Regions from separate parts of the Homo sapiens genome. Here region 2 is linked to region 1. The links come from fine-mapping of genetic effects on gene expression. Tissue or cell type: caudate. Region 1 holds a variant in brackets; the other region holds the start of a gene. All regions are shown on one strand. Distances are between the middles of the regions.

Region 1 (2,662 bases):
CATGGGCCGGGAATGTGCAGCCTGCGGTGACCCGGGAGCCAGCTGCGTGTGTTGGCGTGTCTGCGGTGGAGTCTGCTCGCCTCCGGCATCGTCCTACTACAGCCTCTCAGTGGCCTTGGAAACTTGACAGAAAGGGCCCAGGCGTGTCTGTCGGGCATTGAGGGCTGAGTGGGGCCCAGCTCTGTGGATGGTCTCCGGCTGTGGTTGTGTGTACCTCAGTGTAGCTGTGTGCTCATTTGTATAGACTCTGGCCCCATAAGGGAACCGGAAGGCAGAGCAGCGTCTGCCTGACGGGGAGGGCGCGGTCTCTGAGCACCCGGGCGCCCGCCTCCCATGGGGCCCAGCAGTAGGGGTGCAGAGGCTGGCGTGCCCAGACGCACTGTGGGTGGCCTCTGGGTAGTGGTCAGAGGTCAGAGGCAGGTCTGTGATGGACGGAGATGAGGCTGCCACAGCATGGGTGACTGTCGCATGGAAGCACAGGAGGGAGGAGATTTCTCACTGCCACACCCTCTGGGTCCCCCCTCGTGGATTGCCCGGGGCAGCTGTGGCGGGGCGGCCACAACACTGTTTAGCAGAGGCTCCAAGACGGGGGAGGGGAGGGAGGCTTCACTGTGGGAACAGGGAGGCTCCAGGTGGTCCTGAGGAGGCCGTTGGCTTAAGGGAGCCGGAGGTAGGGACCGGACAGACGCATGGCCTCCCAGGTGACTGGCGGGTACCTTGGCTCTCTCAGGCTCGTCTTGGGTTGGAGGCTGCTGTCATAACCGAGGCCTGTGGCCGTCCCAGGCCCCCCACGTGCCCTGTGCTTGAGCTGCAGGATGTGGGGATGCCCTGGGCAGGAGGCGGGCAGAGCCCTGGAGGGAGGGGTTCCACCCCTCATGTCCCCTCCAGGGCCCCGCACCCAGGGGCTGCCTGGCAGGTGCTCTTCCCGGAAAGCATCTGGTTCCCGAGAGCCCATTAGGACCGTGCTTCCGTTTCGATGTGGTTATTTTTAAGAATTCTTCATCAGATTTCATTTCAGAAAAAACAGCCCTTACAAAGCAGGGCTTTGAGGACTCCGATTGTCGAGGTGCACGTGCATGGCTTGGAGTGGGTGGGCTCTGAGCACCTCTCGGGGGCTTGGGTGCCAGAAATGTTTTAATAACTCCAGGCATTGAGCGCACACAGAATCACGACTGTGGCAC[C/T]TGACCCAGTGCCCTGCGACACGCCCACAGGTCGAAAGCTGCCCTGCGCCTGAAGTTCGAGGTGTGCAAGGAGCTGAGGGCCCACCTGGAGCTCCTGCCCAAGACAGGCTATATCCAGGCACAGTCGTCCTACTCCGTGCAGCTCAAGTTCCTGCCGCGGTAGGTGCCAGGACGCCAAGGCCGGGACAGGAGGACGTGGGAGGTTGTGGGCTCCGAGGCGCTCCTCGCCACTGGCCACTCCTCTGTTCTCATTGCTGCCGGGATCATCAGCCTCCAGGGATGTGTTCTGGGGCAGAGGCCATGACGCTGGGGGGCAGTCACAGCTGGGTCTGTGGTCCGTTTTGGTTGCTTTTGTTTAAGATGTGAGCCGAGTTGAAGTTCATTTTTTTGTACAGAGGTTTCCAATTATTCCAGCCTCGTTGTTGAAAAGACTGGGAGGCTGCGTGTCTCCCATGCATGGCCGGTGGCTCTCATGGCCACTGAGGGTCTGCTACCTGCCGGGATAAGGTGGCCCAGGATAAGGCTCTGGCTTGCTACGGGTACCCTGCGGTCCGTGCACTCCCCCGCTGTCTTCCCTGTCTTCATCCCTTTCCCAGTAACTCCCTGGGGTTCTGTTTCAAGCTCAGTGCACACCTGACATTTGCTCCTTTACCTGTGTCTTGAGGGTGTCCCTGTCACCCAGCTGTCCCTCGTCTAATCCAAGGCTCTTCCCAGGCCTGCTGGCTGCATCCCCTGGTCTCTGCTTTTGCCAGGTGAACTTTGATTTCTGCGCTTGAACATTTGTTGTGCTTTGGAGACTGGACGTCCTGTGTCCGATCCCAGCCCCCCAGAGCTGCCCTCAGCATCCGGGCCGGGACCAAGGTCCAGACAAATGATGCTCAGTGGAGCTTGGTGGGGGAGGTGGGCGCAGCAGGCACGGGCCTGGTGGGACTAGGAGGGGAACAGGGCGGAGCTGAGCTTAAAATCGGCTGCTTCCTGGACTTGCCCCCGCCGGCCGCCTGTCACAGGGAGGCTGATGTTTTTCTTTCTTATTTTACTTCTCCTGATATTTCTTTCTTTCTTTCTTTCTTTTTTGAGACAGAGTCTCGCTCTGTCGCCCAGGCTGGAGTGCAGTGGCACTATCTCGGCTCACTGCAAGCTCTGCCTCCCGGGTTCACGCCATTCTCCTGCCTCAGCCTCCCGAGTAGCTGGGACTACAGGCGCCCGCCACCACGCCCGGCTAATTTTTTGTATTTTTTAGTAGAGATGGGGTTTCACCGTGTTAGGCAGGATGGTCTCCATCTCCTGACCTCGTGATCCGCGCGCCTCAGCCTCCCAAAGTGCTGGGATTACAGGCGTGAGCCACCGTGCCCGGCCCTTTTCCTGATAGTTCTTTAACAACGTTAACTTATGTAATCAGAGATCAAGCTCTGATTAAAGTGAAAATGCATTTTTAAAGGGCTTTTTAGGATTCCTTTACGATGCAAACTCCATATTAATTT
Region 2 (2,646 bases), 62 kb before region 1:
TCCCGGGTTCAAACGATTCTCCTGCCTCAGCCTCTGGGGTAGCTGGGACTGCAGGTGTGCGCCACCACACCCGGCTAATTTTTGTATTTTTAGTAGAGACAGGGTTTCACCATGTTGACCAGGATAGTCTCGAACTCCTGACCTCAAGTGATCTGCCCAACTCAGCCTCCCAAAGTGCTGGGATTACAGGCATGAGCCACTGTGCCCAACCGGGTTTTTGCTGTTTTTAATTTTGAAACAGGGTCTTGATTTCGCTCAGGCCAGAGTGTGATGGCACCATCATAGCTCACTGACTTTGCTATTTACTTTTACAATTTTTCAGTTGGAGCCTTTGCTGGAACATAACATTCAGAAGTCTTTTTTTTTTTTTTTTTTTTTTTGAGCCGGAGTCTCACTCTGTCATCCAGGCTGGAGTGCAGTGGTACGATCTTGGCTCACTGCAACCTCCTCCTCCTGGATTCAAGCGATTCTCCTGCCTCAGCCTCCTGAGTAGCTGGGATTACAGGCAGCTGCCACCATGCCCTGCTAATTTTTGTATATTTAGAAGAGACGGGGTTTCACCATGTTGGCGAAGCTGGTCTCGAACTCCTGACCTCAAGTGATCCGTCCACCTCGGCCTCCTAAATTGTTGGGATGACAGGTGTGAGCCACCGCGCCCAGCCCGATCTTCCATTTGCAAGAGAAGAGGAAAATCCCCATTTTCACGGGAAACCTCCTAGTTTTTTAGGTTGACAAACGACTCCAAACCATCATGCACCCGCCCCGGTCCTCTGGGCCAACGCGCCGGTGCTGAGCTCCTCCAGGCCCCCCAAGTCTGTCTGTCACCTCCAAGCCTTGGCCCTGGGCCAGGCCTGGCTGTCTGGGACCCCGGAGACGTCCCCGCCCCGCGGCCTGTGGCCTGGCCCTTCAGCCGCGCCTCGGGGCCCGCGACCTCCTTGCCCCGGCCCCGGCCCGCGCGGTCGGTGGTGGGTCGGACCAAACCACCCGCTCCAGCCGGGGAGCAGAACGGGCGAGGCTCCCCCTCCGGCCACGATGGAGTCTTCCGTTGCCATGGAGCTGCCCGCCCCAAACCACGCCGCCGGCGCCGCGGAGGGCAATCGCCAAGGACCGCCGCCTGCCTGAGCAGCCCGGGGTGTCTGTGCCTCCGGAGCCCGAGAACCTGGGACCCAGGCCAGCCAGAGGTGGGTGTGGGGGCGGATGCGTTTGACCCTGGGGCTGAGCTGGAAGGGTTTGACCCCCGCCCCCCAGGCAGAACTCCGTCCCATATGAAACGCCTTTCCCGGAAAGCTGTGCCAGAAAAATGACTTTGTTAATAGTTCTAGTCCCTGGTTCGTTTCAGGGAACCCCGGCGCTGGCACAGCCTCTGTTGAGGGACCCGCCCCTGACTTTGCAGCAGATGTTATAATAAAGTATTATTATAACACATTTACAAAAACATTAAACAAAAATCAAGGGCCAGCCTGTCTGGTGAACAGTTAAGACTCGTGAGTGTCTGCCTAGCTAAAAAGGAGAGCATGGTCCATAGCCCCAAAGTCATTTAGTTTTAGTATGTATAACCTAGTTTTGGAAGCTGATTTGCCTCTAGTATTTTGTTTTTCTTAAAGGAATACTCCTTTTATCTGCATAAGCCAGGTACTGAGGTAGTAAGCAGGCCTGCTGTAGGGCCCACAGTTGAAAAGAAATGGACTGATATTCTCTGCATAACGATGGTGCATAAATGCGCATGTGCGACTTAGAGATTGGTTATAAATCGAACATCAGTAGCCACTACCCAAGTTAAGAAATAGAACCTCATCAGCACCCCAAAGTCTCTCCCCCATGCCACTCACAGACCCGCTCTTCTTGACCATGGCTGACTTTTTCTTTAGTTTTACTACCTATGCATGCGTCCCTAAACAATATAGTTAACTTTCACTTATTTTAAACTTTATATAAACTTTATATTTATATAAAATTTTAAAGATGATATATAAATTTCTTTAGTTTTACTACCTATGCATGTGTCCCTAAACAATATAGTTAACTTTCACTTATTTTAAACTTTATATAAACTTTATATAAAATTTTAAAGAATATATGTGGTGTTATATAAACAATATATAATATAAATATATAGACTATATATAATGCCACATATAGTTTTATGTAAGTTTAATAATATATATTAAACTTCATATAATACTACATATATTCTTTAAATTTTTGTTTTTTTGAGACAGAGTCTCACTGTGTTGCCCAGGTTGGAATGCAGCAGGGCGATCTCGGCTCACTGCAACCTCCACCTCCTGGGTTCAAGCGATTCTCCTGCCTCAGCCTCCCAAGTAGCTGGGATTATAGCATGCCTGGCTAATTTTTGTATTTTTAGTATAGACGGGGTTTCCGCGTGTTGGCCAGGATGGTCTTGAACTCCTGATCTCAAATGATCCACCCACCTCCGCCTCCCAAAGTGCTGGAATTACAGGCGGTGAGCCACCACACCCAGCCAACTTTCATTTATTTTAAATTTTATATAAATTTATTTATATAAAATTTTAAAGAATATGTGTGGTATTATATAAGGTTTATATAAGTTTAATAATATATATAAACTTTATGTAATACCACATACATTCTTTAACATTTTTTGAAACAATCCCAAACTTGTAT

Evidence for each region. PIP is the estimated chance that this variant, and not a neighbour inherited with it, causes the effect.
Region 2: it holds the start of CFAP74, and the variant in region 1 is the best candidate, but not a certain one, in a credible set for the expression of CFAP74 in caudate (GTEx, PIP 0.59).

Annotation. Positions count from the first base shown.
Region 1 is chr1:1,940,706-1,943,367 of GRCh38, reverse strand. CFAP74 (cilia and flagella associated protein 74) reads left to right here. Exons shown (of 39, transcript NM_001304360.2): 22 at 1,212-1,340. Among named protein-coding and RNA genes, the nearest start is that of TMEM52, 23 kb to the right of the region's middle. The variant C/T (reference allele first, on the strand shown) is at 1,182.
Region 2 is chr1:2,002,236-2,004,881 of GRCh38, reverse strand. It overlaps CFAP74 (cilia and flagella associated protein 74), which reads left to right and starts at 1,096. Exons shown (of 39, transcript NM_001304360.2): 1 at 1,096-1,181. RefSeq lists a silencer at 938-1,232.